Linked DNA regions of Homo sapiens. The protein of the gene in region 6 purifies or fractionates together with the protein of the main gene of each other region. This does not show direct contact. Each region holds a gene or a part of one and is shown on either strand. Other genes may lie near its edges.

What was found.
Region 1: the proteins of MAP3K13 (region 6) and KLHL20 purify together in Homo sapiens (affinity purification with mass spectrometry; 2 studies listed by BioGRID and IntAct, with this or other methods). This does not show direct contact.
Region 2: the proteins of MAP3K13 (region 6) and SMC4 purify together in Homo sapiens (affinity purification with mass spectrometry; one large-scale study listed by BioGRID and IntAct). This does not show direct contact.
Region 3: the proteins of MAP3K13 (region 6) and TKT purify together in Homo sapiens (affinity purification with mass spectrometry, with the first as the bait; one study listed by BioGRID). This does not show direct contact.
Region 4: the proteins of MAP3K13 (region 6) and COLGALT1 purify together in Homo sapiens (affinity purification with mass spectrometry; one large-scale study listed by BioGRID and IntAct). This does not show direct contact.
Region 5: the proteins of MAP3K13 (region 6) and RANGAP1 purify together in Homo sapiens (affinity purification with mass spectrometry, with the first as the bait; one study listed by BioGRID). This does not show direct contact.
Region 7: the proteins of MAP3K13 (region 6) and CYFIP2 purify together in Homo sapiens (affinity purification with mass spectrometry; one large-scale study listed by BioGRID and IntAct). This does not show direct contact.

The regions. Positions count from the first base shown.
Region 1 is NC_000001.11:173,735,481-173,738,980, forward strand, and holds part of KLHL20 (kelch-like protein 20), read left to right. Parts: intron 1-3,500. UniProt on the Homo sapiens protein: Substrate-specific adapter of a BCR (BTB-CUL3-RBX1) E3 ubiquitin-protein ligase complex involved in interferon response and anterograde Golgi to endosome transport.
Region 2 is NC_000003.12:160,430,650-160,433,051, reverse strand, and holds part of SMC4 (structural maintenance of chromosomes protein 4), read right to left. Parts: coding exon 2,309-2,402; intron 2,021-2,308; coding exon 1,847-2,020; intron 1,410-1,846; coding exon 1,227-1,409; intron 770-1,226; coding exon 537-769; intron 27-536; coding exon 1-26. UniProt on the Homo sapiens protein: Central component of the condensin complex, a complex required for conversion of interphase chromatin into mitotic-like condense chromosomes.
Region 3 is NC_000003.12:53,239,023-53,242,522, reverse strand, and holds part of TKT (transketolase), read left to right. Parts: intron 1-280; coding exon 281-398; intron 399-1,277; coding exon 1,278-1,391; intron 1,392-2,174; coding exon 2,175-2,272; intron 2,273-3,500. UniProt on the Homo sapiens protein: Catalyzes the transfer of a two-carbon ketol group from a ketose donor to an aldose acceptor, via a covalent intermediate with the cofactor thiamine pyrophosphate.
Region 4 is NC_000019.10:17,569,149-17,572,648, reverse strand, and holds part of COLGALT1 (procollagen galactosyltransferase 1 precursor), read right to left. Parts: intron 679-3,500; exon of another isoform or gene 658-678; intron 167-657; coding exon 47-166; intron 1-46. UniProt on the Homo sapiens protein: Beta-galactosyltransferase that transfers beta-galactose to hydroxylysine residues of type I collagen. By acting on collagen glycosylation, facilitates the formation of collagen triple helix. Also involved in the biosynthesis of collagen type IV.
Region 5 is NC_000022.11:41,258,688-41,262,187, reverse strand, and holds part of RANGAP1 (ran GTPase-activating protein 1), read left to right. Parts: intron 1-607; coding exon 608-742; intron 743-3,500. UniProt on the Homo sapiens protein: GTPase activator for RAN. Converts cytoplasmic GTP-bound RAN to GDP-bound RAN, which is essential for RAN-mediated nuclear import and export. Mediates dissociation of cargo from nuclear export complexes containing XPO1, RAN and RANBP2 after nuclear export.
Region 6 is NC_000003.12:185,487,365-185,489,594, forward strand, and holds the end of MAP3K13 (mitogen-activated protein kinase kinase kinase 13), read left to right. Parts: 3' UTR 1-1,730; downstream 1,731-2,230. UniProt on the Homo sapiens protein: Activates the JUN N-terminal pathway through activation of the MAP kinase kinase MAP2K7. Acts synergistically with PRDX3 to regulate the activation of NF-kappa-B in the cytosol.
Region 7 is NC_000005.10:157,318,123-157,321,622, forward strand, and holds part of CYFIP2 (cytoplasmic FMR1-interacting protein 2), read left to right. Parts: intron 1-1,639; coding exon 1,640-1,806; intron 1,807-2,532; coding exon 2,533-2,680; intron 2,681-3,500. UniProt on the Homo sapiens protein: Involved in T-cell adhesion and p53/TP53-dependent induction of apoptosis. Does not bind RNA. As component of the WAVE1 complex, required for BDNF-NTRK2 endocytic trafficking and signaling from early endosomes.

The DNA.
Region 1 (3,500 bases), on a different chromosome or scaffold from region 6:
CCTAAGAGTGCTAGAAAACCATTAAAGGGTTTTAAGCAAAGACAAAACATGGTCTGTTTTACAACTTTTTAAAAAATCATATTTTTATTTATTTTGCAGTAAAGTGGTCAGCTCAGGACCATAGTTTTTTTCCCCCTAATAGTTTTTGGAGAACAGGTGGTGTTTGATTATATGAATAAGTTCTTCATTGATGATTTCTGAGATTTTGGTGCATCCACCACCCGAGCAGTGTACACCGTACCCAATGTGTAGTCTTTTATCTCTCACCCACCTCCCACACTTCCCCCTGAATCCCCAAAGTCCATTGTGTCATTCTTACGACTTTGCATCCTCATAGCTTAGCTCCCACTTATAAGTGAGAACATATCATTTTTGGTTTTCCATTCCTGAGTTACATCACTTAGAATAATGGTCTCCAACCAACTCCATCCAGATTGCTGCAAATGCCATTCTATCTTTTTTTTTTTTTTTTTTTTTTGAGATGGAGTCTCACTTGCTCTGTTGCCCACGCTGGAGTGCAACGGGGCTCAATCTCAGCTCACTGCAACTTCTGCCTCCTGGGTTCAAGTGATTCTCCTGCCTCAGCCTCCCAAGTAGCTGGGACTATAGGTACATGCCACCATGTCCAGCTAATTTTTGTATTTTTATTAGAGATGGGGTTTCACCATGTTGGCCAGGCTGGTCTCAAATTCCTGACCTCAAGTGATCTGTGATCTGCTTGCCTCAGCCTACCAAAGTGCTGGGATTACAGGCGTGAGTCACTGTTCCTGGCCAATATATTGTTCCTTTTTATGGCTGAGTAGTATTCTGTGGTATATATACATACCACATTTTCTTTATCCACTTGTTGATTGATGGGCATTTGGGCTGGTTCCGTATTTTTGCAGTTGTGAATTGTGCTGCTATAAACATGCACATGCAAGTGTCTTTTTCATATAATGACTTCTTTTCCTCTGGGCAGTAACCAGTAGTGGGATTGCTGGAACAAATGGTAGATATACTTTTGGTTCTTTAAGAAATCTCCATATACTGTTTTCCATAGTGGTTGCACTAGTCCACATTCCCACCAGCAATGTAAAAGTGTTCCCTTTTCACCACATCCATGCCAACATCTTTTTTTTTTTTTTAATTTTGAAACAGAGTCTCACTGTGTTGCCCAGGCTGGAGTGCAGTGGCATGATCTCGGCTCACTGCAACCTCCGCCTCCCGGGTTCAAGCGATTCTCCCACCTCAGCCTCCCGAGTAGCTGGGATTACAGGGATTTGCCACCACACCAAGCTAATTTTTGTATTTTTAGTAGAGATGGGGTTTCACCATGTTGGCCAGGCTGGTCTCAAACTCCTGACCTCAGGTGATCTGCCCGCCTTGGCCTCCCAAAGTGCTGGGATTACAGGCATGAGCCACCGCACCCGGCCTATGTTTTTATTTTTTAAATTATGGCCATTCTTGCAGGAGTAAAGTGGTATCACATTGTGGTTTTGATTTGCTGATCATTAGTGATGTTGAGCATTTTTTCATATGTTTGTTGGCCATTTGTATATCTTCTTTTGAGAATTGTCTATTGGTCTTTAGCCCACTTTTTGATGGAATTATTTGTTTTTTTCCTTGGTGATTTGTTTGAATTCCTTGTAGATTCTGGATATTAGTCTGTGGTTGGATCTGTAGTTTGCAAACATTCTCTCCCACTCCGTGGGTTGTCTATTTACTCTGCTGATTATTTCTTTTGCTGTGCAGAAGCTTTTTAGTTTAAGTTCCATCTATTTATCTTTGTTTTTGTTGCATTTGCTTTTGGTTCTTGATCATGAACTCTTTGCCTGAGCCAATGTCTAGAAGGGTTTCTCCAATGTTATCTTCTAGAATTTTTATGGTTTCATGTCTTAGATTTAAGTCTTTGATCCATCTTGAGTTGGTTTTTGTATAAGGTGAGAGATGAAGATTCAGTTTCATTCTTCTACATGTGGCTTGCCAATTATCCCAGCACTGTTTGCTGAATAGGGTGTCCTTTCCCCACATTATGTTTTTGTTTGCTTTGTCAAAGATCAGTTGGCTTTAACTATTTGGCTTTATTTCTGGGTTCTCTATTCTTTCCATTGGTCTATGTACCTATTTTTATGCCAGTATCATGCTGTTTTGGTGACTATAGCCTTGTAAAATAGTTTGAAATTAGGTAATGTGATGCCTCCAGATTTGCTTAGCCTTCCTTTGGGTATGTGGGCTCATTTTTGGTTCCATATGAATTTTAGGATTGTTTTTTCTAGTTCTGTGAAGAATGATGGTGGTATTTTTATGGGAATTGCATTGAATTTATAGATTCTCTTGGCTGTATAGACATTTTCACAATATTGATTCTACCCATTCATGAGCATGAGATGTGTTTCCATTTGTTTGTGTCATCTATGATTTCTTTCAGCAGTGTTTTGGTAGAGACCTTTCACTTCTGTAGTGAGATATATTCCTAAGTATTTTATCTTTTTTTTTTTTTTTGCAGCTATTATAAAAGGGGTTGGGTTCTTGATTTGATTCTCAGCTTGGTTGCTCTTCGTGTATAGCAGTACTACTGGTTTGTGTACATTAATTTTGTACCCTGAAACTTTACTGAATTCATTTACCAGTTCTTGGAGCTTTTTGGATGAGTCTTTAGGGTTTTCTAGGTATACAATCATATTGTCGGCAAACAGCGACAGTTTGACTTTCTCTTTAACAATTTGGATGCTCTTTATTTCATTTGTTTGTTTGTTATAAGAGATGAGGTCTTGCTTTGTCCCCCAGCTTTGACCTCCAGGGCACAAGCGATCCTCCCGCCTCAGCCCCCCACGTAGCTGGGACTACAGATGCGCACCATCATGCCCGGCTAATTTTTGTATTTTTCTGTAGAGACACGGTTTTGCCATGTTGCCCAGGCTGGTCTCAAACTCCTGAGCTCAGGCAATCCACCTGCCTCGGTGTCCCAAAGTGTTGGGAGTACAGGCATGAGCCACTGCACCTGGTCCTGGATGCCCTTTATTTCTTTCTCTTGTGTGATTGCTTTGCCTAGGACTTAAAGTACTATGTTGAATAGAAGTGGTGAAAGTGGGCATCTTTGTCTTGTTCCAGTTCTCAGGGGGAATGCTTTCAACTTTTCCTGTTCAGTATAATATTGGCTGCAGGTTTGTCATAGATGGTTTTTATTACCTTAAGGTATGTCCCTTCTATGCCGATTTTCCTGAGCATTTCAATCATAAATTGATGCTAGATTTTGTCAAATGCTTTTTATGTATCTAATGAAATGATCATATGATTTTTATTTTTAATTCTGTTTATGTGGTATATCACAATTATTGACTTGCATATGTTAAACTATCCCTTCATCCCTGGTATGAAACCCACTTGATCATGGTGGATTATCTTTTTGATATGCTGTTGGATTCAGTTAGCTATTATTTTGTGGAGGATTTTTGCATCTATGTTCATCAGGGATACTGGTCTGTAGTTTTGTTTCTTTGTTATGTTCTTTCCTGGTT
Region 2 (2,402 bases), about 25 Mb from region 6:
TCCAACTTTTCTTAGGTGGTCGAACACTGAAATGATTAAGAAAATCATAGTCAAATTACCTGTAAAGCTAAAGTTAAGACTTTGTGATTTGCTTTCCATAATTGAGTTCTACTATCTTTTTTAGGAATCTGTAACTTGCTTTTCACAAATATGAATTCTCTTTTCTGTTATTTTATAAAAACGTTATTGGAGGATGCATACATAGGAGCACATACCAAAGTTTTAAGATTTAAAGAGCAAGCTAAGTATTATACTTCTTGCTATTCTTTCTCCTTATCAAATACAATTTCTCAATCCTCATGTTAAAAATGCCTTGAAAATTTAAGAAAAGATGAACTAGACAAATATTTTGTAAATACTGGCTGTCTGCCCCTGTAAACTGCAAGCATAAATAGCATGCAAGCAAATTAGTATTTACTAGTAAATGAAACAAGTTGTACATCTTGCCTTCACATCCTACCTCCAAGAAATACTGAGTTTGGAGAATATGTAGAAAAAGGTAACAGTGGGATTATAAACTCAGCATAATTACACACCTGAACATGATTCCTTCAGAGAAAGGATCCAAGCTGTCTACAAGCTCGAGTTCGGCGTCCCCTCCCAAAGTAAGCATTTGGTAATTTTCCTTTAATTTATTTGTTATTATATAAAAACCTGCCATAAATTCATTAAGCCTTTGTTTCCGAAGATCTTCATATGCCTGTCTAAAACTGTCTCTTTCATAAGTAATTTTGTCCAATTCTGCTACCCGTTGCAAATACAATTCTTCCTGTGAAAAGATTATGATAGGGAAAATCTATTCAGATAAATTTGATATGATAATTAGCATTGTTAATTATTACTTTGTTTTGAGACGTAGTCTTGCCCTGACGCCCAGGCTGGAGTGCAATGGCGCGATCTCGGCTCACGGCAACCTCCACCTCCCAGGTTCAAGCGATTCTCCTGCCTCAGCCTCCCGAGTACCCGGGATTACAGGCACGTGCCACAACGCCTGGCTAATTTTTTGTATCTTTAATAGAGATGAGGTTTCACTATGTTGGCCCAGCTGGTCTCGAACTCCTGACCTTGTGATCCACCCGCCTTTGGCCTCCCAAAGTGCTGGGATTACAGGCGTGAGCCACCACGCCCGGCCAACAGCATTGTTAATTATACAAAACTAAAGATCAGAATTTAGGCTAAGGACTAAAAAGAACTCCAACTAGTATACATACACAGTTCATTCATACCTTCTTTTTATACTCTGCGATGGCACCGAGGTTTGGTTTCATTTCATGACACCGGGCTTCCAAAAGTGCAATTTGATTTGTTATAGAATCTGGATTCTTGATCGCTTCAAGATCCTCTGGGCTTAGAACCGAAATCTCTTCAATAGGATTATCTTCTATAGGATGCAGTGATATTTTTGAAATCTAAAAGTTCAATTTAGGGGAGAGTTAGAGAAGGCATAATATTACATACAATTCATTGTTTAAAAAAAAATATGACAAATTACACAGCTATGAAAACAACAGGAGTTGTGACTGATTTATCAATTATTTTTCAAAGGACTTCAAGAAAAATAGTTGTAACACTCAAAAGTGTCCATGTAATCTTTTCTTAAATGTCCAGATCAGCCCTAGGGTGAAAGGGTAGTTGTCTAATTCTAATCGTTACTCAGACTTTTCTGTATATAACAATTTATATTGTTATGTCCCCTATAAACCTTAGAAGTGATCACAGAATTAAAAATCACAATGTAGCTCACAAACAAAATTTAAGAACCCCAACCCCCTAAAACAATCCTCCCCAAACCCTCCTTTTTCATAAAGAATATGTTTAAAATTAAACTAAACGGTAACAATCTCACCTCTTTGTGCCAATATTTTATTTTAGAATTATGTTCAGCAATGTGACCATCTATTTGTTCAAGTTTCAACTTAATACTAAGTGCATCTTTTTGAAGAGCATGTTCATTTTCTTGAATAACTTTTAATTCTTGAAGCAGATTGCGATGTTCTTTCTGGATCTCTGGTAAGGATTCCTAAACACCGAAAAGAACTGCTAGATAGAATTTTCCAAATAGAGCCATCATTTTCACATTACAGAGATGAAGGAATTACCAATCTCTCCTCATGCCCCTTCCATTTTAAAATAATTTAAGCATTTAAATTCACAAATTATAGTATTCTTATTGTACAAATAAAAATTGATAGTTATAAAACTTTAAGTCTATGAGTGCTTACTACATTCTAGGCACTGTCATATATCCAGCTCTTTAAATTGGTTCCAGTATCATCCCATCTCCTCTTCAATACAAAGCAACTCATACCTCTGCAGCATTTGTATTCTTTACGACCTCTGCTGCTTTGTCCTCAAGACTTTTCAGCTCTGCTGTTAGGTCATCCACCTCTTTCTCAGTATCT
Region 3 (3,500 bases), about 130 Mb from region 6:
CCAGATATTTTCAGTTGCCGTGATTCTGAGGATCTGATGCCCCTGGAAAGGTACAACAGTCCCCAGCACCCACTAGCTGGCCCAGGCCCCAAACTGCCAGGAGTGGCCTTCTTGAGACCATGTGTCACCCTCCCAGGGAACAAGAGCTCGTGGCTGTCTGATAAGCCAGGCCTGTGTGACTCCTCAGGACATGCACCCCCAGGTCCCTGTACAGCTGAGCACAATAGCTCAGGAGTGCAGGGCCATGATGCCTGTGTCTGTCTTCTCTCCTGGGCCACAGCCACCCCACGTCATGCTGCAGCGCCGCAGAGATCATGGCTGTCCTCTTTTTCCACACCATGCGCTACAAGTCCCAGGACCCCCGGAATCCGCACAATGACCGCTTTGTGCTCTCCAAGGTAAGAGCCCAGCTGCCCACTGCCAGCCACACCTTGCCTGGGACTAGGGTCACACGGGCCCTGGAATGGTGAGTGGTCTTTGAGGAGACCTGGCTGGGCCCACCTCTCCCAGGTGCCTTCTCCCTGCTCGTCCTGGCCTCTCCCTCAGTGTCCTGCTCTGTGCTGACCCAGCTGGCTAAGGAATACAGGACTGAATTGATGGGTTGCTCTGCCATGGAGCCCAGGTACATAAACAACGCTTTAACTCAAAGAAATGGAGTAGGGGACTACGGAAACATCTGTTGTGTGTTCTGCCCAGTCTGGGTGTTGACAGGCAGGACTGGCATCTCGGTCTGGGTTGTGGCTCCCTACCTGCTCTATCTGTGTTGTGCCAGCGCTCCCGAGGCCACGGCTTGCCCCCTCGGGGTGGTGGTGTGCTGTAGCAGGGTTTTGGATGGGGACCCCCTGACCCCCCCCTTCTGGGTGGAATCACAGCCACAGATCCCTGAAATCCACCTGTGCTCAGGCCTGCCTCCGTGGCGTTTGGTCTCTCGGGCAGGCTTTAGAGCTTAGAAGTCTGTCCAAGTTGTTCCCATGCCACAAACCAGGGATTAGGGCAGCCGGCTGCCTGCTGGGGTTTTGGCTTCGTCCAGCCTCACAGCTGTGCCCCCTGCACCTGTCTTAGTGCCTGCCTGGCCTTGGCAGTGGGAACTTTGGGCTGAAAACCAAGAGGCTGAAGAGGGCTGAAAGGGGAGAAGTGGCCTTCACTTGCTTCCTCCCCTGAAATGGATGCTGCAGTTGGCCGGCTCGGCCGGGCCCCAGGGGTCAGTGTGAAGTAGGCACAGCCCGAAGTAGAACCGCTCCCCACCTGACCTCACCCCACCATCCATCTCCCGGCAGGGCCATGCAGCTCCCATCCTCTACGCGGTCTGGGCTGAAGCTGGTTTCCTGGCCGAGGCGGAGCTGCTGAACCTGAGGAAGATCAGCTCCGACTTGGACGGGCACCCGGTCCCGGTAAGTGCTCCTGCCAGAGCCTCCCATGCCTCTGCCTCCACTTCCTATTTCCCAGACATGTGGGACGGGGGTAGGGGGTGCCCACTGAGAAGCCAAAGGTGTTGAAAGGCGGAGGAGGGCATTGAGTTGAGGAAGGAAAGAAGCAGGTGTTTTGGGGACACGTATTCAACCCAAGCTGGTGCCAAAGGGGAAGGCCTTCTGAGGCCTCAGCCAGGGTGCTCTGGGATGACTTCAGGGAGGGCCTCTCCCCAAGCTACCCTTCTGCACTGGGCCTCCTTGGCTAGGTAGCTACAGCTTGGGAAGAGAGGGGACTCGATAAGGGAGTGGCTGCAGGATGCTGGCGAAACCCTGGGGAAGGGACCCAGTTTGTTCCTTGGGGTGCCATCTGGCATCCCTGCAAACGTTAAGACTTCATGGATTACCACAAAAACTGTCACATGGTCTGGGTCCCCACGAGGGGCAAATGTTCTGTCAATTTTTTCATGATTCTCTCTCCCAGCACTTTGTGAAGTGGGTGATGTGGGAACTGAGGCTCACAGAGGTTCAGTCCCTTGCCTGAGGCCTGAGGCCACATAGCTGGCTAGTGGGCAGGGCTGGGATTTGAACCTATAATTATAATTAGTTCATTAGGAGAAGAAGTCACATGCTAGGTAGAGGCCATCCTGGGGCCTGACCTTCTGCAGAGGAAGGGCTTGCTGGGCTGGGTGGGAGTGTGGCTCCCTAGGCGGGTGAGACCAGGATCCCTTCTCCTCTCAGATTAACGGTGGCCTTCTGTTATGACAGAAACAAGCTTTCACCGACGTGGCCACTGGCTCCCTGGGCCAGGGCCTCGGGGCCGCTTGTGGGATGGCCTACACCGGCAAATACTTCGACAAGGCCAGGTAACACACCTACTCCCCACCCCCAACCTGGGTAGTTTTGGGGAGTGGTCCTTGGGTGACCCACCCTTCACCATCGCCCCCAGACTCTTCCTCTTTCCTGGCTAGGGCAGAGTAATACATATGCGTGGCCTCTTTTGCTCTTTAAACATCCGCTATGGCTGGTGCCATGACCGGCCCCCTTTACAAATGAGGAAACACTCAGGAGTTAAGGGACCTGCCCTGGGTCCCTCAGCAGTGACTGGCAGGGCCAGGTTTGCACAGAGTGCGTGCTCTCAATCATGTGCTCTTCAGCCAGAGTGCTTAGGCTGAGGACTTCCTGTTTTGCCCCCAGCCCTGTGCCCAGACCCCAGAAGTCTCAGAAAGACCCACCCCCAGGCCCCTGTCTGACTAGGCACCAGGAGCCCAGGCCTGAGCCACTTGCCTTTATCTTGGTAAAGGGGAGGGTTGTATGTTCTGAGGGGTTCTGGGATACCTGTAAGCCACCTCCTATCAGCAGGGAAGAAACAAACATTTGAGAGATTGAGCCTTCAGAGGGTGGGTGATGAGCCTGACCAGAAAGGTGTGCTGCTCTAGCGCCCACCAGGTGATTTGTAGGAACGGCCCCCCAGGAAGGTTCTAGCCATAAGTTTGTCTGCGGTGGTCAGATATGGCCTGGGGGGATGAGGTTGTAAACTGTTAAGAATAATGGCTGGCTGAGGGAAGGATTGCTTGAGGCCAGGAGTTCCAGACCAGCCTAGGCAACAGAGCAAGACTCTCTCTACAAAAAATACAAAACTTAGCCAGGCATGGTGGTACACACCTGTAGTCCCAGCTACATAGGAGGCTGAGGTGGGAGGATCACTTGAGCCTAGGGCTTCAAGATTATAGCTATACATGATTGAGCCACTGCACCCTAGCCTGGGCTACAGAGCGAGACTCTGCCTCTTTAAAAAAAAAATTATTCTTTTTTTTAAAGAATAATCACTGTATTAGTCTGTTTCCACACTGCTGATAAAGGCATACCCAAGTCTGGGGAAGAAAAAGAGGTCTAATGGACTTACAGTTCCACATGGCTAGGGAGGCCTCACAGTCATGCTGGAAGGTAAGGAGGAACAAGTCACATCTTATGTGGAAGGCGCAGGCAAAGAGAGAGTTTGTGCAGGGAAACTCCCGTTTTTAAAACCATCAGATCTTGTGAGACTTATTCACCATCACGAGAACAGCATGGGGAAGACCTGTCCCCATGATT
Region 4 (3,500 bases), on a different chromosome or scaffold from region 6:
GGGAGGCAACCTGGCACCTCCCAGGGCGGTGTGCAGGCAGACTCACCCATGACCTCCAGCTGCACATGCATGAAGCTCTCGGCCTCATCCTGGAGGGTGCTGTGGGCGCGCAATGGCACTGGCAAGAATCCGTACTCCTCCTTGTTGCACACATACATCTGAACCTCTGCAGTGGGCAGGGAAGCAACAGACAAATGTAAAAACAGGCGAGGCCCAGTGGCTCATGCCTTCCATCCCACGGCTTCAGGAGGCCAACGCAGGAGGATCGCTTGAGGTCAGGTGTCTGAGACCAGCCTGGGCAACAGAGCAAGACCTTATATCTACAAACAACTTTTTTTTTTTTTTAAGACAGAGTCTCACTCTCCCAGGCTGGAGTGCAGTGGCACTACCTTGGCTCACTGCAACCTCCGCCTCCCGGGTTCAAGTGATTCTCCTGCCTCAGCCTCCCTAGTAGCTGAGACTACAGGCACATGCCACCATGCCTGGCTAATTTTTTGTATTTGTAGAGACGGGGTTTCATCATGTTAGCCAGGATGGTCTCGATCTCCTGACCTCGCGATCCACCTGTCTTGGCCTCCTGAAGTGCTGGGATTACAGGTATGAGCCACCACGCCCGGCTCTACAAATAATTTTAAAATTAGCTGGGAATGGTGGTACCTGCCTATGGTCCCAGCTCCTCGGGAGGCTGTGGCAGGAGGATCACTTGAGCCCAGGAGACTTGAGGCTGCCATGAGCTATGATGGCACACTGCACTCCAGCTTAGGCAACAGGGCAAGGCCCTGTCTCAAAAACAAACCCAAAAAAAAAACAGTAAAAATGCATGTTGAGGCACAAAAAGGAAAGTTTGACAAAATGTGAGTTAAGTTACTTCCTTCTACATCTATCCTTTTCTGGATGGTTTAAATTTTGATGAGTGTGTATCTTTTTTTTTGAGACAGAGTCTCGTTCTGTCGCCCAGGCTGGAGTTCAGTGGTGCCACCTCGGCTCACTGCAACCTCCGCCTCTGGGGTTCAAGCAATTCTCCTGCCTCAGCCTCCCAAGTAGCTGGGATTACAGGCACCCGCCACCACACCCAGCTAATTTCTGTATTTTTTTTTAGTAGAGGTGGGGTTTCACCACGTTGGCCAGGCTGGTCTCGAAATCCTGACCTCAAGTGATCCACTGAGCCCAGCCAAGTGTGTATCTTTTTTAGACTAAAAAACTCAATGATGCTCTTTTAATTTAATTTATTTATTTTTTTTGAGACAGAGTCTCGCTCTGTCGCCCAGGCTGGATTGCAGTGGTGTGATCTCCGTTCACTGCCTCCTGGGTTCAAACAATTCTTGTGCCTCAGCCTCCCAAGTAGCTGGGACTACAGGCACCCACCACCATGCCCAGCCAATTTTTGTATTTTTAGCAGAGACGGGTTTCACCATGTTGGCCAGGCTGGCCTCAAACTCTTGACCTCATGTGATCCACCCACCTCACCCTCCCAAAGTGCTGGGATTACAGGCATGAGCCACTACACCCGGCCTCTTTTAATTTTAATTGGTCAATTTCTTCTATAAAGGGCCAGGTGGTAAGTATTTTAGGCTTGTGTGCCAGACGGTTTCTATCTCAATGACTCTGTTCTGCCTGTGGCACTTGAAAGCAGCTACAGACGACACTTAAATGAATGGGCTTGGCTGGGTACTGATGACACTTTATTGATGGGCAATGAAATCTGAATTTCATACAGTTTTCATGTGTCACAATATTCTTCTTCTTTTGATTCTTTTCCCCAGTGATTTAAAAATGTAAAAATTGGCCGGGTGTGGTGGCTCATGCCCGTAATCCCAGCATTTTGTGAGGCTGAGGCGGGTGAATCACCTGAGGTCAGGAGTTCGAGACCAGCCTGGCCAACAGGCAAAACCCCATCTCTACTAAAAATACAAAAATTAGCCAGGCGTGGTGGTGCACACCTGTAGTCCCAGCTACTAGGGAGGCTAAGGCAGGAGAATCAATTGAACCTGGGAGGTGGAGGTTGCAGTGAGCTGAGATCATGCCACTGTACTCCAGCCTGGGCAACGGAGGGAGACCCTGTGTCAAATAAATAAATAAATAATAAAAATGTAAAAATTGTTGGCCAGGCACCGTAGCTCACGTTTGTATTCCTAGCGCTTTGGGAGGCTGAGGTGGGAAGGATCACTTAAGGCCAGGAGTTCAAGTCTAGTCTGGGCAACATAGCAAGACCCCATCTCTACAAAAACATTTTTTTTTTCAATTAGCTGGGCATGTAGGCAGGTGCCTATAGCCCCAGCCAGTCTGGAGGCTGAGATGAGAGGATTGCTTGAGCCCAGGAGGTTGAGGCTGCAGTGAGCTACGATCACACCACTGCACTCCAGGCTGGGTGACAGAGTAAGACTGTGTCTCTAAAAAAATAAAAATAAAATATAAAAGTTGTTGTTAGCTTGTGGCCATATAAAAGTAATTAGTGGGGCCAGGCGCGGTGGCTCACGCCTGTAATCCCAGCACTCTGGGAGGCCGAGGTGGGCAGATCACAAGGTCAAGAGATCAAGACCATCCTGGCTAACACAGTGAAACCCCGTCTCTACTAAAAATACAAAAATTAGCCGGGCCTGGTGGCTGGTGCCTGTAGTCCCAGCTACGCGGAAAGCTGAGGCAGGAGAATGGCGTGAACCCAGGAGGCGGAGCTTACAGTGAGCCAAGATCGGGCCACTGCACTCCAGCCTGGGCGACAGAGCGAGACTCCGTCTCAAAAAAAAAAAAAAAAAAAAAGTAATTAGTGGGCCAGGTTTGGCCTGCAGGTCAGTTTGCCAACCTCTGGTTTCCAGTAAACAACAAGTCAACATGAGGCTGTGCTGTCTCTTTAAATATTTGTTTTCCCAATTAAACAATTAATATATGCTCAACTGTAGAAAATTAGGAGAATGGCCCAGGTGCAGTGGCTCCCTCCTGTAATCCCGGCACTTTGGGAGGCCGAGGTGGGCGGATCACCTGGGGTCAGGAGTTTGAGACCAGCCTGGCCAACCTGGGGAAACCCTGTCTCTACTATAAATATAAAAATGAGCCAGACATGGTGGCGTATGCCTGTAATCCCAGCTACTTGGGAGGCTGAGGCAGGAGAATCTCTTGAACCAGGAGGCAGAGGTTGCAGTGAGCCGAGATCGCACCACTGCACTCTAGCCTAGGTGACAGAGCAAGACTCTACTTCAAAAAAAAAAAACAAAAGAAAATTGGGAGAATATAGAAAAGTATGAAGATTGAAATAACATTTGGGGTTGATCATGGAAAATTGTGTAACGGGTTCAATGTATATTATTTGGGGATGGATGCCCTAAAATCTCTTGACTCACCACTTCACAATCTATGCACGTGACAAAATTACACTTGTGCTCCATAAATTTACACAAATTAAAAAATAATAGTAACATGCAATCAATAGGTATTTTTTTCTTGAGAAGGATTCTTACTTTGTTGCCCAGGCTGGAGTGCAGTGGCATGATCTCGGCTCACTGCAA
Region 5 (3,500 bases), on a different chromosome or scaffold from region 6:
TTTACCACCAGCAGGCAAGCTCCTGCTGTGCCTGGCCAGCTTTTAGGCACAGGCAGGTGTCAGACAGGTTCGTCTGGACCGTGGACTTGGCAGCTGGCTCCCTTGGACATTGTGGAACGTGGAAGAGAAGCTGGAAGATTTGGGCTTTGGTCCAGAGTCCACCACTTGTTTATTGACCATAAGAAAGTTTCCGTTCCTCTTACCCTGAGTTTCTTCAGCTGGAAAATGGGAGCCATGATTTTCCCACCTAGCAGAGGGCCTTAGACAGTGAAGTGAGCTGACTAGGAAGTCCTTCCCCTGGACCTGGCTAAAAGTTCATCCACTCCATGTGGTCTCTCCCTTTCCTGAGTAGGGCTTGGTCTCCCCGTCTCGAAAGTGAAGCTAAACCTCTCAGGCTGGTGTGACACAGCATTAGAGATAAAAACCTTGTGTAACTGAAGTGCTGGACATATTTAAGGTGTGACTGTTGAGCTGTTAGCAGTCCTGCGTCCCCTGACCTGCACCGATGGGTGGCGTGGGATGTTGAAGAGCAGTTCAGCAGCAGTGGCCACCCCGCTGGGAGAAGGGGCTCCTGCCCATGACCAGGGCCCCTTGCCTTTCCCCACAGATCCTGGCTGCAGCTCTGACCGAATGTCACCGGAAATCCAGTGCCCAAGGCAAGCCTCTGGCCCTGAAGGTCTTTGTGGCTGGCAGAAACCGTCTGGAGAATGATGGCGCCACTGCCTTGGCAGAAGCTTTTAGGGTGAGTGGTTTCTGTCCATCCTGCCCCTGCAGCCTTGAGGTGCACTCGGCATAGTAGGCTGACAGTTCTGGATGCTAATCCCAGGGCTGGCACTCAACCAAGAGACCTGGGGCGTCACGTGCCCTCTCCAAGCCTGTTAACCCATCCGAAAATGAGCCAGAATTCCTGTCGTGCATTTCTGGAAAGGTGTGTGACTTTCCGGAAAGGTGTGTGACTGGCTCCCACTGGTGAGCCAGCCCCTATGGGGCTTCAGGCCAGGCAGGCCACTCTGACCAAGGAGTGTCATCTGCCAGGCTCAGAAGTGGTGAAGTGAGATGGTGCGAGTGCTGACAGTAGCCTGGCCCAGCCACTGGTGTGGGGCACAGAGAAGGAACATACCAGACCTCCAAGACAGGGAGATAGGCAGGGGCAGCCGCAGGGCTCAGGTGCCAAATGACGTGCTCTCAGGTGACCTTATCCCCACTCCTCTTCCACTCTCCTCTCCCCATCCCCGCAGGACATTGCTGAGTCCCCGATCGTGAGTGCCAGCAGAAGGCTACACTTGCCCCTAACAGGACTGAAAACTTTGGGGTCTGTCTCCCTCCTCTCTTTCCTGTTTTTTTTGAGGCAGAGTCTCATTCTGTCACCCATGCTGGAGTGCAGTGCGTGATCTTGGCTCACTGCAGTCTCCGCCTCCCAGGTTCAAGCAGTTCTGCCTCAGCCTCCCGAGTAGCTGGAATTACGGGCACCCGCCACCACACCCGGCTAATTTTTGTATTTTTATTAGAGACGGGGTTTTACCATGTTGGCCAGGTGGTCTCGAACTCCTGACCTCAAGTGATCTGCCCGCCTGGGCCTCCCAAAGTGCTGGGATTACAGGCGTGAGCCACCACGTCCGGCCCCTCTTCTCTTAATTTAAATGTTTTCTTCAGCAAACAGTATCCTAGGAGCATTGCTCATACGGGCCGGAATGTCCTGGCTGCCCATCGAGGCTGTCTGTAGATACCCTTTGCCTGCTTCAGTGCCAAGTGAACATCGCAGAGATCTGCCTTGTGTCTCCCTGCACCCCTGGCTGCAGGGGAGCTCCTGCTGCCTCCTCTGGAGCTGGTGGGGGCCTCACTGCCATCCTTGGATCCCTCCCTGCCGTCAGCCTGCTGTCCTCAGTGCACTGGGAGGAGGGGGTGCGCTGTGGTTGTGTTGAGCCTTCATAGGTGTCCTCTGGTGGGCTTAGAATGGGGGTTCTTAATCCCCCCCAGTATGTGGATAGAATTCAGGGGTCTGTGAACATGGATGAGGAAAAAATAACATTATTATTTATTACTAATGTAGCTAAAATATGTAGTGTGACCTTTGATTATAAATGTAGACAATAAACCTCACAGCATTAGAAAGGCCTGTGACTACCCACATAACAAACAAGCACATGTAGTCCCTGAACCCAAAAAAAAAAAAAATTTTATTGAGGCAGGGTCTCGCTCTGTTGCCCAGGCTGGAGTACAACGGTGCAATCTCAGCCCACTGCAGTTGAAGCTTCCCAGGCTCAAGTGATCCTCCCACCTCAGCCTCCCGATTAGCTGGGACTACAGGTGTGCACCACCATGCCCACCCAGTTAATTTTTGTATTTTAGTAGAGATGGGGTTTCACCATGTTAGCCAGGCTGGTCTCAAACTCCTGACCTCAGGTAATCCACTCGCCTTGGCCTCCTAAAGTGCTGGGATTATAGGCATAAGCCACTGCGCCCAGCTTAAAATTTTTAAAAAAATAAAAAGAAAATCTTGTGACTTTATCCCCAGTGGAAATCACAGGTATTTCATATGAAGTTATAGTTACTGCTGATATATAGAAATATTTCTCACTACATCAAAATTACAGTAATAGTGGACCCACCCCTAGATCTTGTTATTTGGTGCATTAACAAGAAGTTTGTATATCACTACAGCATGCGTTTGGAGTTTTTTCCTAAATGTTTTGATAACTGTTCCAACTGAGTTGATTTCCTTTGTAATTCTGTGTAATTTATCTTAAAATTTTAAAAAAACATTTTTTGAGGAGGGGACCCAGGGGCTTCACCAGACTGCCTGAAGGGTTCATGGCACAGAAAATACTAAGAAGGCCTGACCTGGAGTGTGCCCAGGTTGGCCTTCCTGTATTTATTTGTGGACCACCCGCTCCCCCCATTGCCCTGTGCTGCACTGAGCACCTGAAGACAGCAGAAGATTCCTTGGCACAGTTAAGCCAGGCCAACCCTCAGTCCTGGGTCACAGTGGAGACTGGGACATGGCCCTCTCCTCCAAAGCTCAGGGGCCGATGGGATGCAGACGGAATATAGGCTTTGAATGTAGGCAGGATGAGGACCACCGTGATAGAGGAGGGACCAGGTGCTCCGGGAGCACAGAGGAACGCACACTGGATCGTGGCTGGGGGAATCCAGGAAGCCTTCCTGGGAGAGGAGGTGACCAAAACAAGAGCCCTAGAACTCATATGAGTTAGCCTGTCAAGAAAATGCTGAATGGCTGGGTGTGGTATCTCACGTCTGTAATCCCAGCACTTTGAGAGGCCGAGGAAGCTGGATCGCCTGAGGTCAGGAGTTCAAGACCAGCCTGGCCAACATGGTGAAACCTCCATCTCTACTAAAAATACAAAATTAGTCGGGTGTGGTGGCGCACGCCTGTAATCTCAGCTACTCAGGAGGCTGAGGCAGGAGAATCACTTGAACCTGGGAGGCAGAGGTTGCGATGAGCCAAGATCATGCCATCACACTCCAGCCTGGGCGACGGA
Region 6 (2,230 bases):
CTGTGTTGCCCAGGCTGGTATCGAACTCTGGGCTCTAGCGATCCTCCTGCTTTGGCCTCCCAAAGTACTGGGATTACAAACGTGAGCTGCCATGCCCAGCCTCCAGACTATTTTAAATGCCCTCTCCCACTGTGGAACATTGGCATCCTTTAAGAATAAATGCATCCTTTTTGATCAAATGATTTACTCTTTTTTTCTTCAATGTCCTCATGTCTCAATTTTTTTTTCCTTTTCTTAAAACAGTCCCACTTGAACTTCCTGGAACTGAATTCTCCAGAACATAATATTTATAATCCATAGAATTCCTGCCCTGCTCTGCAGTAGAGTGTGCTATGTTTTGTTTTCCCACTGAGCCAGAAGCCGAAATATTATACTACCACTTACCACCATCTACCACCTCCAAGACCAAGACCAACATTATGTATTGAGCATCGTATCTTTCCTACTGAGCCTAGACACAGCCTCAGAACCTCTCAACATAGCACTTGGAGCAACAATTGCCGCTTGATTGGAATTGCCATTTGAGCTTGAGTTAGCCCCAATGGCAGAACGACAGGCTCGCACTAGTGTCCACCTGTGGCTGTCAGGGGCGGTACCACAGAAAGGGGAAAGGCCACTTGCCTCTACCCACTGCCCTTTTGGACAACAATTCCAATTGAAGGAACACCAATCACTGATGGATCCCATTCCAAAATGTCTCTTCATTCACATCATTTAATTCTGTTGAATGAATATGTTCCTCCCTCACCTTTTATAAACAGAAAATTAATATAAGTCCCAGTTACTTGCTTCTTAGACTCTGTGAGACTCATGTACCAAAACAATGTGACATTCTTTTCGAGACTTTGACTTGTACGGTCAGTATGAATTTAGTGCCTTTCCAGGCAGCAAAATGTTTCTTCTTTGCTGATTTCATAGGACAAATATCCTAGCATACTCACACCACCAGTGTCCCACCCTCACAGACTGGCACATTAGAATCATATTAATCTGCTTGTTTGCATGTTACAACTGATACTGCAAAAGCCTATTCAAGTCGGACTGAACTAGGCTAAGCAGAGGACCCTTGTGGAACCTGGAGCATTTCTCAGGGACAGGTGGCTAAAGAGGGGAGCTCTAAAATCACTGCTCTGAGAAACAGGAGGTGGGTTAAGGCTTTTGTTAACTGTCATGTGGCCAGGGTACGATGGCAGGACTTCACAGAGCAGAGCCCTAAGCAGATGGCAAGGCCACTGTAAGGAAGCTCCCGGCAGCATCCCAGGTCTGCTCTCCAGAGCCACTTCACAGCACTCAGGGATCGCTGGCTCCCGGCCCTAGGCTGCTGTCCAGTGACCAGGTGGACAGGGTCCTCCAGTGACTGCAGGCCAAGGGAACCCCAGCCAGCATGTGCAAGCTATTAGGAAGATGTCCCATCTTGCCCATATCACCCCAGTGGCTCTTCACCTTCAGAGTGACCACTTCCCAGACTCTGGAAGTGGGAAGACCCTCTTTGACGCTTTATTACAGTAATTTGAGCTCCTATCGACTTGGAGCGAATGAATTTCTCTTTTGTGGTTAGGTCTCCAAATGAACCTCCTTACCTGGCTCCCCTCTGGTCTCCTGTACTGTCAGTCCCCAGCTCCCAGTGTTGTTTTCTGATGCCGGCTCCCTCTCTGTATTGAACGGCAATGGGAACAAGAATGACTATCAAAGCAAACAAATGCATGGAATTAAACAAAAAGTGTACTTCACTGTTTTCTAGTCCTGTCTTTTTCTAAATGTACTGTTTGTGCCCTGAGAGCTGCCTTAATAATCTCAGCATTTGTCAGAACTTGAGGGAAAGGAAGACTTTCCATGACTGGGTTTCCTGCAGCCACAAAAAGCAGGTAATGGAGAAAGCTAGTTTCTGCGATTCTTGTATTTGACACAGCCACGAAAGGAAGGGGCAATCATCATTTTATTTGGTGACAGCCTCTTCTTGAGTATTCTGTAAAAGCTAGACTGGCACTCTGCTTCTTCCCTATGCTTTCCTGCTGCCCATCCGGTAGCTACTCCTGTTACTACTGACCCCACTATACAGGGAGCAGAGAGAGAAAATGAAGATGAAAATCTGGCTTCTGAGAAATTATTTTGGTAAGAAGCATTGAGAGTGGAAAGCTTAAAACACCATTTTGGACTGTCCAATTTTCAGCCAATCCTAATTCCCACTGGCAAAGGTAGTTGAAAGTTAGCAACATGTTCAAACAAGCAC
Region 7 (3,500 bases), on a different chromosome or scaffold from region 6:
TCTTCAGTCAAATATATGTCGCAAATATTTTTTCTCATCAGTGACTTTGCCTTTTCATTTTTTAAGGGTGCCTTTTGAAGAGCAGCTGTTTTTAATTTTGATGAAGTCCAATTTGTCAGTTATTTGGTGGTTAGTGATTTGGGGGTTTCAGCTAAGAAATCTTTGCCTTGTCTAGAGTTGTAAAGATTTTTCCTTTAGATCCAACAGGCCTGCCCACTCCTCTGTATTTGGAGCCATTCTGAGACATCTTCATTATTTACTCCTTCCTTTTTCCTAATGTCTCCTAGTTATATCTGTAGCCAGGGGCCCAGATTCTGTTATGATCTAACAGTCCTCTAATGCTTCTCTCCCATTATTTCTCTGCACTAAAGCTCATCACCAACAAAATTGTTGTACTGTTGGTGCCAATGAAAACCATCACCTCCTGAGTTGTTTTCATACCAGTTCTATCTAAAAATGTTCTTTTTCTTCCTTTAAGTTTTAGAGAAAAAAACAGCCTTAGGGTCTGAGCTCATTCATTCATTTATTTGTTCCTTTTCAACAGAAAATGTGTCTGCCCACCATGGACCCAGACACTGGCAGTTGGGCGTGCACAGCATAGCTGGGCCCTGTCCTGTGTATTTCCAGTCTGGTGTAGAAGGTGGAACATGCCATTATGGGTGTGATCTGTGTGGCAGTTGTGAGGTGGACGATCTGCCACATGCCTTTCCCTCTGAATTCTGAATCAATTGAGAAATTAATATTAGAGGCCAATGGAGTCAAAGGCTCAGACTTACTGCTGGTAAAGCTAGACTAGAGAATGTGGTTTTCACCCAAGGCCACACCAGTGTTCCTATGCCTCCTACATCTCATTAAACTTGCCACTAGGTAATAGGCAAAGCAGCTGCATAGATACACGCCTCCCTTCCTCGGGATGGGCAGGGGATGGTTACTGCAAGAAGCAGCCAGAAACCTAGAAGGGAGGCCACATACTTGCAGGCAGGCAGGTCCCAAAAGAGCGAGCCAAGGTCAGGCCAGGCTCCTCTCATCACACGTGCCTGAATCCCCATCTCTCCAAACAGATAAGTGAGTTAGGGTAAGGAGAAGGGAAATAGGGGAGTAGAGGCATTCTCCCCCATGACTTCTGCAGGAGAAGTTTTGATTTTATAAACTCAAGCAGCAACTGGCCAAACGGTTTCAAAAACAAAGGTTGTAAAAATTCTTTAGAAAATTTTATGTTAAAAAAGTTCTATTTGATGTTGTCTGTGAGTGCCTGGTCTATGGAGAGGCCTTCAAAAGCCAAGGCACTTCTCAAAATGCTCAAATTGTGGCCCATGGGCCAGCTGCTATTTGTCAGCAGTGAACAACAAAATTGGGAGCTCATGCGAGGATGAAAATCAGTTGCATTGCGAAGAATGCTGTTAGTTGAGCTGACATTTGTGTTTTGTAGCAAGACTTTCTCAATGAATGAAGCCAAGTGCTGATATACGTACATTCTGGCACACATCTCTTACCTAGCCATGCGCTGGCACTTTGAGTAGCACTGGCCTCATGCCTCTGGACATCTCACTCCCCGCCTCCCCTGGCAGGGCGGTGATGGGTAGTAGACAGCTGGTGTGCTGGACATGGTGAACATGACCCTTGGCCTCTTCCTGCCCAGGTGATCGCCATGATCAAAGGCCTGCAGGTGCTCATGGGCAGGATGGAGAGCGTCTTCAACCAGGCCATCAGGAACACCATCTACGCGGCATTGCAGGACTTCGCCCAGGTGACGCTGCGTGAGCCCCTGCGGCAGGCGGTACGGAAGAAGAAGAATGTCCTCATCAGGTGGGTTTTCAGATGCCTTCAGGAGCATATCAGACATAAGCATGCCAGGTACCCATCAGAGAGGATGTCCTGGCTCAGCCACTGAACACACATGGGTCCTTCCAGCAAGCTCCAGAGGGCTCTTTAGGAGATTGGGCATTTGGGATGAATTAAGCCTTCATCTCTAGAAGTCCATATCCACTGCTATCTAGCTGTGTGAACTTGGTCAGGTTGCTGACCTTCTCCAAACCTCAGTTTTCCTCATTTGTAAAATGGGGATTATAATGCTACCTGCTGCCTGTTGGGATGATGAAATGAGATGGTCCATATATAGACCTAAGCACATGCAGCATGGAGTAAGTATGCAGCACATCTAAGCTATTATGAAAACTAAGCACACACAGATTTCATAAGACCGGTGAGACTCCCCTATAACCAGAAAGGAAATACAGACCTCTTGCCTCACACAAGTTCTGTCTCACTCGATGGGCTCAGAGCTGAGTTCTCAGACATCCCTTGGACATCAGAACCATGTAGGACACTTGTTTAAACACAGATTCCTGGACTGTACCTTAAATCTGTTAAACCAGAGTTTTGGAATTGGGGCAGAAATGAGCATGCTTTACAAGCACCCCAAGAATTCAAATGTGGGTGTTCCTGGGACACCACGGGCCCTAGAAACACAAGCTTGTAGTGACGTTTTCCCATGGTGAAACCTGGTCTAAGTCTTAGTTCTTCCTTCCCCAGCGTCCTACAGGCAATTCGAAAGACCATCTGTGACTGGGAGGGAGGGCGAGAGCCCCCTAATGACCCATGCTTGAGAGGGGAGAAGGACCCCAAAGGTGGATTTGATATCAAGGTGCCCCGGCGTGCTGTGGGGCCATCCAGCACACAGGTAAGCGGCTCCAGGCACAGGCCAGCTGCGTTGACTCAGAGGCCAGCCGGGCTATGGTAGATCATCATGGCTGGCCATGGGCAGTGGGACTGGGAGCCGTCGGTCAGGAGGGGCAGGGTTGAGTGGCTGCTCCGGTCTTATTCTGCCATCTTGTTTTGATATAGGAAGGAGGACCACTGGCTTAAGATTCAGGAGACCTGGATTCTAGTCCTAGATACCTGTGTGACCTCGGGCACTTTACAGATCTCTCTGTGCCTCAGTTGTTTAAACTGGCTAATGGGGATAATACCACCACATCCACCTTGCCTGGCTATCTTCTAGTCCTATGAAGTATAGATTCCAAAGTGGAGGAGGAGGTTAAAGTGGAATCTATCTGCATGCATCTATGCTGCCCCTCTTTAATAAGTCCTGGCCCTTTCCCCTAAAAGTTCTGCCTCTGACTTGCTGTGTGATCTTGGGCAAGCACCTTGAGCTTTCTGAGCTCTGATTATCTTCTCTGTAAAATGAAAACTTTGGATGAGATTGTGTTACTAACAAAATATTCCTTAGTTCCACATCCTTCCAAAAGTGCAAGTATTGAAAGCCCTTGTCCCCTTAGAGGAAGTCTAGTATTTGGAAACACTCAGAGTTGCCAGCCAGAGCTTCTGCACAAGAGGTCGCCCGTGGCTTATCCAGAGCAGTCATAACGTTACAGAAAAAAAAGTCAATAATCTGGGCATCTTCGTTAAATCCCTGCTACCTACTTAAGGATAGGTAGTTTCTGGTAATATTTTTGATGTACTGGAAAAAGCAGATGGTTCTCATTGCAAGTTTAAGGGTC